Regions from separate parts of the Homo sapiens genome. Here regions 1 and 2 are each linked to region 3. The links come from fine-mapping of genetic effects on gene expression. A gene starts in region 3. Each other region holds a variant in brackets. All regions are shown on one strand. Distances are from middle to middle. Region 1 overlaps SEMA3F-AS1 (SEMA3F antisense RNA 1). Region 2 overlaps SEMA3F (semaphorin 3F). Region 3 holds the start of HYAL1 (hyaluronidase 1).

Evidence for each region. PIP is the estimated chance that this variant, and not a neighbour inherited with it, causes the effect.
Region 1: its variant is the best candidate, but not a certain one, in a credible set for the expression of HYAL1 in lung (TOPMed, PIP 0.68).
Region 2: its variant is the best candidate, but not a certain one, in a credible set for the expression of HYAL1 in left ventricle (GTEx, PIP 0.60).

What each region holds. Positions count from the first base shown.
Region 1 is chr3:50,140,077-50,142,827 of GRCh38, forward strand. All of the region lies in intron 1 of SEMA3F-AS1 (SEMA3F antisense RNA 1), which reads right to left. Among named protein-coding and RNA genes, the nearest start is that of SEMA3F, 14 kb to the right of the region's middle. RefSeq lists enhancers at 162-723, 724-1,285. The variant G/A (reference allele first, on the strand shown) is at 1,313.
Region 2 is chr3:50,162,306-50,165,056 of GRCh38, forward strand. All of the region lies in intron 2 of SEMA3F (semaphorin 3F), which reads left to right. Among named protein-coding and RNA genes, the nearest start is that of SEMA3F-AS1, 7.6 kb to the left of the region's middle. The variant T/C (reference allele first, on the strand shown) is at 1,051.
Region 3 is chr3:50,302,561-50,305,291 of GRCh38, forward strand. It overlaps HYAL1 (hyaluronidase 1), which reads right to left and starts at 1,014. Exons shown (of 4, transcript NM_033159.4): 1 at 906-1,014; 2 at 1-420. The coding sequence starts at 396. RefSeq lists enhancers at 498-1,432, 1,250-1,419.

The sequences.
Region 1 (2,751 bases), 160 kb before region 3:
TGTCCCATCCCTCGGGGAAGGATGGGTCTCATTCGACCAACAGAGTCCTCACAGAGGCAGCAAAGGCCCCCCAGGCTGGCAGTCTCCAGCAGTGCCCAGCCCCAGCCCCTGGTTCCGTGCAGCTCTGCTTCCTGGGGCCAGCTGAGCCTGCCCACCTAGCCTAGGCACCTCCGGCTGGGTCCTCCCCAAGGACTGTTCGAGGGCCCACGTCTGCCTTCACTCTGCTGCTCTGCTGCTCCGTCCAGGCCCCCCTGGCCCTTGGAAGAGCCAGCCCAGGTGAAGCTCATGTGCCACTGCCGCTGCCCTCACCCTATCACCCATCGCTAGGAGGTTGTGAAGCTGCCTGAGTCCTGCCCCAGACAGCACCACACTCTGGCCTCCAGGACACACCATGGCAGGGCATGCCTCCAGGCTCTCCCACCACTGTTCACTCATCCTTCAGGACAGGATATCTGTGATGCGTCCTTTAAGGCCCAGCAGCAGTGTCACCTCCTCTAGGCAGCCTTCCTTCAGTCACCCTCTCAGCCCCAGGGCACCCTCTGCACCCCGTCACCCGGACACCTCCCTGCTGACCTGGGGCTTCATCTTCTTGCCCTACAGCTCCTGGTGCATAATTGTTTACAGGAACTGTGGGCTGGGTGTTGGGGTCAGAGCCAGAGTGGGAGAGCCAGAGTGGGGCTGTCCTATTTAAGGAAGGAGAGAGGTGGGGGCCCAGGAGACCCAGGTGGCCTGCCATTCCCCTGACAACCCACGTGCTGGTCCCTCCTCCACCCGCCCTGGTCCTGCGGAGGACAGTAATGTTGTCTTTGCCTGTGGAGGCTCCGGTGGGTGTAACGTGTGTGCTAGGTGGGCCACCATGCAGGCCTGGATGCCCAAAGATCAGAAGCAATGGCAGAAGACAGGGTCAAGGCTGGGCAGTTGAGGACTGCCCCAACCTGAGTGGACCCTTCGGTTGGATGAGAAGATAAATGCGCCCCCACTCTCTCCTGGGGCCGCAACAGAGCAATTCCACAGTCTCTTGTGCCCCAGTGATGGCGTCTACGTCTCCCTGTCATCTACCGGGGAGGGCTGATAAGTCATAACAAAGGTGACTCAGGGAGCCTGCGCCCTACACACTAGATGCTGCTCCGGCAATCTGTGCTCGGTGGCTAGTTTGATCCTTTCGGCACCCTGTGAGGAAGAAACTTGCTCTCATTTAACAGCTGAGGAAACTGGGGGCAAGTGCATACCCATGGGAGGGTGAGAGCCTCATACAGCCAGGCCTGGAGCTGGGGCCCATCATGGGGCCTGCAGGAGGCGTCCATGCACATGC[G/A]TGCACATGCACCCCCAGCCCCAGCCTCGTGAGTCCTTCTTCTCTCTTTTTTTTCTTTCCTTCTCCTTCCCTCCTTCCTTCCTTCTTTCCTTCCTTCCTTCCTTCCTTGCTCCCTCCCTCCCTCCCTCCCTCTCTCTCTCTTTCTTTTTTTCTTTCTTTCTTTCTTTCTTTCTTTCCATGGGGTCTCGCTCTGTCGCCCAGGCTGGAGTGCAGTGGCGCAATCTTGGCTCGCTGCAAGCTCCACCTCCAGGGTTCACACCATTCTCCTGCCTCAGCCTCCAGATTAGGTGGGACCACAGGTGCCCGCCACCACGTCCAGCTAATTCTTTTGTATTTTTAGTAGAGACAGGGTTTCACTGTATTAGCCAGAATGGTCTCAATCTCCTGACCTTGTGATCCACCCATCTCGGCCTCCCAAAGTGCTGGGATTACAGGCATGAGCCACCGCGCCCGGCCCTTCCTTCCTTCCATCCTTCCTTCCTCTCTTCTTTTTCTTTCTTTCTTTTTCTTTCTTCTTTCTTTCTTTTTCTTTCTTCTTTCTTTCTTTCTTTCTTTTCTTTCTCTCTCTTCCCTCATTCCTTCCCTCCCTCCTTCCTTCCTTGTTTTCTTTCCTTTTCTTTTCTTTCTTTCTTTCTTTCTTTCTTTCTTTCTTTCTTTCTTTCTTTCTGTCTCTCTCTCTCCCTTCCTTCCTTCCTCTTTCTTTTTTCTTTTTTTTTTTGACAGAGTCTCACTCTCTCGCTCAAGCTGGAGTGCACTGGGCTCACTGCAACCTCTGCCTCCCAGGTTCAAGCAATTCTCCTGCCTCAGCCTCCCGAGTAGCTGAGACTACAGGCGTGCGCCACCAAGCCCAGCTAATTTTTGTATTTTTAGTAGAGACAGGGTTTCACCATGTTGGCCAGGCTGCTCTTGAACTCCTGACCTCAGGTGATCCACCTGCCTCGGCCACCCAGAGTGCTGGGATTACAGGCGTGAGCCACTGCGTCTGGTCTCTCTCTTTCTCTTTCTGTCTCTTTCTTTTTCTTTCTTTCTTTCTTTGTCTCTCTCCTTCCTTCTTTCCTTCCTTCCTTCCTCCCTCCCTCTCTTCCTTACTTTCTCTCTCTTTCTTTCTTTCCTTTCTTCCTTCCTTCCTTCCTTTCTTTCTCTCTTTCTCTCTTTCTTCTTTCTTTCATTTTTGAGAAGGATTCTTGCTCTGTCCCTAGGCTGGAGTGCAGTGGTGCAATCTCGGCTCACTGCAACCTCTGCCTCCCGGCTTCAAGCAATTCTCCTGCCTCAGGCTTCCAAGTAACTGAGACTACAGGTGCCCACCACCACACTCAACTAATTTTTGTATTTTTACTAGAGACAGGGTTTCACCATGTTGGCCAGGCTGGTCTTGAACTCCTGACCTCAAGTGATCTGCCCACTTCTGCCTCCCAAAGTGCTGGGATTACAGGTGTGAG
Region 2 (2,751 bases), 140 kb before region 3:
CTAGAGCCAGAAGGGTGTGAGGGTCAAGCAGCCCAGGGTTCCCTCAGATTAGGGGGGCTCCTATGGCCCAGCTTCTGGGCTTCAGCAGCACAGCCAAAATCAGGCAGAAGTGAGGGTCAAATGGAGATTTCCAGGAGCAGGTGAGGTGTTTGTTCATTCCTTGCTCTTGAGAGAGTGGAGCCTGGGCTGGAAGCCTGGACAGACCCTCCTTCCTTCACCCATCCATGCCTGGGCCTGGAGTCCCCTACACTGCAGAATCACTGCCAAATCTCAGAGAAAAAGCTCTTCCTTCCCCCACCTTGAGATGACCCAGGCTCTGGGGCACCACCTCCCTCCGTGGCAGCAGCAGGGAGGTGTGAGGGCCCTGCCAGGCCCTTTGTTCAGCCTGGGGAGTGTTTACTTTTTCCCAGGAAGCTACCCCACGACACACTGCTGCTGCCTGGGCTGGGTTTGGCCAGGGATTGGGGCCAAGAGATGTTTGGTGGGGTAGAAGGACCCTGTGATGACATGAGACAGTTGTGCTGCTAGGGAAGCTGAGGCAGAAGTAGGGAGAGGGAGCAGAAGGTCACCCTGCCAGGGGAGGTCAGGAAAGATGAACATAATCGAAATAGTAGTAGGAGCCCATGAGGATAACCAAGCAATGGTCCCTCCAAGACCTAAAGAGGGTCTGCCTAGGTTTCCTGTGAGGAAGGAGGCTTACGGGGGCTGAGCGGCTTCCCAGGTCACTCAGGAGCAGGACTGAGATGGAGCCTGCATCCGCCTGATGCCTGAGGCTGTCCCAGGACTGAGAGTGGAGGGCAGGGATGGTGGTGGTGCTGGAGGCACAGACCCTTCACATGAGCTAGGAACAAGGAAGATTCCAGCATTCTGCAGTGCTGGTTTAGGCTTCCTAGCCTCGTTTCCCAAAGAAAGGGCTGGGGTCGCACTGGGCAGGCTCCCCATGCCCTCTGTCTGCCGAAGCAACGGAATTGGGGTTTGCTTATTTCCAGGCTATAAATCCGGCCCTCCATCACTCTGGCCCTTCCACTGAGCAGGGTCCCTAGGAAGGCC[T/C]CTCATGTCAGAGATGGGAACATCAGGGCCTAAGAGAGGAAAGGGCTCCTGTTCCAGAGCAGCCTGGAGTTTGAGCCCTCCAGGCCAATAGCCCAGAACAGTGCCACCGCTCACATCATTTGCATGTGGCATCAGAGGACCAAGGTTGCCAGGTTTGGAGATGATGAGGTTAGAGGTTAGGAAGGGTCACAGCCCGTTGACTTCCCCTCAGGAGTTGATGTGAGTTGAGGTGCCTCTAGCAAGCCTTGATGGGGCCTTAGCCCTCAGGCCTGGTGCAGGAGTAGGGGTGGGGCTGGAGAGCTAGAGGACATGCTCTTGCCCCCCAGGGGCTCCTTGGCCAGCCAGAGCAAGGCATGGGGCTTTGGTGGGGGAGGAGGGGGAGGAGGCCCAGGAGCTTTGAGGCCAGTGTGGCACCAGGGAGCTGGGCAAGGGTCAGGTGGCTCTGGCAGCTACAGTGGGGGTTGGAGCTCACAAGCCAGGGAGGGTAGGTGTTCCAGGATACGCCAGGATGAGGGAGGAAGGAAGACCCAAAGCATGAACTTGAGCCCAGATCCCTTGAGGCCAGATCTGGAGTTTCAGTTTTCTGGAAATGGGAGCTGCCTTACTCCTGAGAGACTTGGAAGTGGCCGCTTTGGAGTTGGGAGGTCCTGGAAGCTGCACATCCCCCAACTGGCTAGGAATTGGTCTTTGGAGAGAATGGAGACAGGGTCCTTGTGCTTGCTGGAGAACCTGCCTGACGCCCAGCCTGGGTCAGCCAGGCCAGGGGCTGGGGCTTTCAGCTGTGGCCTTCCAGGTCAAGTGGAGCTTCAGATGGGACCTCCACTGTCTGGGCCTCCGCAGCACAGGCCTTGTCTCTGGTTCCCTGGCATGATGCCCGCCCCTCCTTCCCTGGCTCCAGCTTCCCTTGGCACTAAGTGAGGAGCTGGTGCATGCTCAAGGAGTAAATCATGTTCCTTGGCAGCCCCCACTGCTTCGTAATCGTAAAGAATTTAAAGAGAAACCGCCAAGATAAAAATCTCACCAGCCCATAAAGGCATCTTTCACCCTGCAGCTTGGGAGACAGTGAGCCTCAGAGTGGGCTCTTGGCTGTCTGCACCTGTGTGTATGCACCTCCGGCCCCTTGACTCCTCCAGAGGTGGTAATAGCTCAGAAGGTGGCTTTAGGGCCATGGGTACCTGGTCCTTGACTCCTGGGAGACCTCCATCTCCTCACTCAGGAGAGTGGGGTGCTTAAATTTGGTGTAATGCAGAAGTGGTGATGGTGGTGGCTGAGCTAGCTGGTCCCAAAGGCAAAACCCAGTTCTACCAGTGTTAGCTGTGTGAGTTCAGCCAAGTGGCTTAGCCTCTCTGAGCCCTGGTTTCTCCTGTGTAAGGTGGGAATGGCAGTGGCCCTGTGGAAGCAGCATCATGAGGGCTCAGACTGTCTTGCTTGCATCCTGGCCATGGGTGGATCTTGCTTGGTGAACATCATTCTGTGTTCCCACTGCCTTTTCTGGAAAATGGGAGTAAGAACAATACTGGCCTCGTTGTGTTGTCAGGAGGATTAACTGTGTGAGTATGGTCACTGTGGAAGAAATCTCAGTCACCAGGAGCGATCCTGAGGCTGGTGTGCAGGTGAGGGCAGGTCCAGGGGCATGCCCCAAGGAGTCCCAGACTGCCTCACCCCTTCCTCCAGAATTCTAACTTTTGGTAAGGGAGATGG
Region 3 (2,731 bases):
TGCCTCCCAGTCGATGACTGCCAGCCCTGAGAAGTCAGGAGCAGGTATGGCAGCCAGGATGTCCTGGAATGTGCGGGCCAGGTGGGCAATCAGGCTGGCATTCTGGGGCAGACCACCAAACACAGGCTCCCCAGTGGGCGTGTAGTAGGGGTAGGTGCCCAGCTGGGAGCTATAGAAAATTGTCATGTCAGGGCCGCGGAAGGTCTGCCCTGGGTTGGCTACCACATCGAAGACACTGACATCCACGTCCACACCGTGCCTCTCCAGGCACCACTGGGTGTTTGCATTCCAGACGGTGGTGAAGGGCCGGTTGGGTAGCAAGGGGCCCCTAAAGCCTTGGGCCATATCGAGTAAGGTCAGGAAGAGGGCGCAGATGGGAAGCAGGTGGGCTGCCATGGCACGGGACTGGTCGAGGACAACCTGGCCAGGGGAGGCAGAGCTGAGAACAGGTTGCAAAGTCTCCGATTCCCCCACTGCTCAGGGCTGGGGGGCTGAGCCCTTGCGCATTAATCCACCGCTGCTCTGGTTTCTGTTAAACATTGACCTGCAGGGCTCCAGGAGGGCAGGGGAGACGCATGGAGGGGAGCATGGCCACTGGAGGGCACATCCGAGTTGCCTCTCAGACCAGGCCTCTGCCATCTCCCACAGGACTTGCTCTAGCCTAAGCTCGCCCACCCCTGCTTCCCCATGAGCCACTGAGGCCATGACATATGTTCTGGGAAGAGTGGCTGACAGCCAGGCCCTCAGCCCCCAGGCTGACCCGACCAAGGGGGGGAGGCCTTCCTGTCTCTTCCACCAGAAATCCTGGCAGCCACTGGAGGAAGATCCAATGGCCTCAGTGACCAAGGACAGGTCAACCCAGCCCTCCTGTACACCCGCCAGTCTGCCCGCTCGTCCCTGCTGACCTTGGGGCTGAAGGGCCTTATCCTCCAAATTTCCTGACCCCAGGATGGGGGCCTAAGCAGGGCCTGGCCAGATTCCACCCCAGCTGCACCAGAGACTCCTGGAGGAAGGAGCCGCTGCTGGAAATTCTGAGCTTTTGTAGGGGGTCACCCCACCCAGGCCAGGGGCGGGCCAAGGGGCGGGCCTTGGATTAGGAGGCCAGGCCAGCCAGGCATCAGGGCTACCTCTGAATCCCTGGCAAAGGGATCTTGGTTGGGGGTGGGGCTGGGCCAACAGTGGCCCCTCCCACGCTGTCAGCACTAGGGCAGGGCTTTGTGGCCTTACCTAGGCTGGAGGAGGTGGGCAGGGGCAGACCCTGCTGGGCAGGCCTGTTTGTGACACTGGAGACCGGGTTCTTTCGTGTCTTGTGCTCAGGGAGTGTTCTTTGTCCACGTGGCTGCATCTGACATTGATGGGCCCTAGGCACTTTACTTTCGTGGATCTTTTCCTCCTTAAAAAAAATATTTTAAAATATGGCCAGGCATGCCAGGTGCGGAGGCTCACGCCTATAATCCTAGCACTTTGGGAAGCCGAGGTGGCAGATCACGAGGTCAGGAGATCGAGACCATCCCGGCTAACATGGTGAAACCCCTTCTCTACTAAAAATACAAAAAATTAGCCGGGCGTGGTGGCAGGCGCCTGTAATCCCAGCTACTCGGGAGGCTGAGGCAGGACAATCCCTTGAACCCGGGAGGCAGAGGTTGCAGTGAGCCAAGACTGCTCCACTGTGCTACTATACTCCAGCCTGGGTGACAGAGAGCGACTCCATCTCAAAAAAAAAAAAAAAAAAAAAAATATATATATATATATATATATATATATATATATATATATATGGCTATAGTCTTAGCACTTTGGGAGGCTGAGGTGGGAGAATTGCTTGAGCCCAGGAGTTCGAGACCAGCCTAGGCAATGTAGCAAGACCCCATCTCTACAAAAAAATTAAAAATTAGCTGGGCATGGTGGTATGTACCTGTAGTCCCAGCTACTTGGGACACTGAGGCAGGAGGAGTGCTTGAGCCCAGGAGGTCATGTCTGGGTTACACTATTATATATTAATTATTAATATATTTACATTTATATTCTTCTTCTGATTAAAAAAACATTTTGTGGGCCCCTGAAAGTACTGTGGCCCTAGGCCTTGGGTCTATTGTGCTTAGTGGATAAGTCATCCCTGTTGTAGGGACCTGTTTCTGAAAGGCACTGTGTTCATGAAGTCAGGGCTGTGTCATCACCCTTTGTATATGTGCTGGGTTAGTGACTGTGTCTTTGTGAAGCCCCATTTAGTGACCATCTGAGCCTCTGCACAAATTCCAGTGGCAAGTAGGTGTGAGTGTGGAACCCAGTGCCTGGGACTGGGTGTGTGTGAGCCCTGCTGTCTTGTGAGCATGAGATCCTGTGTTTGTGTGACCATGCATATGAGCTGTCAGTGAGCACATGCTTGTTCATTCATTTGTGGTTTCACTTGTTCAATATGTGAAAGGAAAATATCTTGGGCCCCTTCAAGCTGGGAACCGCTCAGGACAAATCTGCCTCCCATTCTATTCAAGTCATCCTTTTGCTTACAGACATAGATGCATATTATGATTGCCTCCATTGCCTCTTTTGGAAAGACTACCAGAAACTCAAAAGAATGCAACCATCTGTCTGTCACCTGCCTGTGACCTGGAAGCCCCCAGTGGGGGGCCGTGCTTTGAGCTGTCTCCACCTCTCTGGACAGAGCTTATGTACTTCTGTTTTTTTTTTATTTTTATTTTTTGAGACGGAGTCTCGCTCTGTCGCCCAGGCT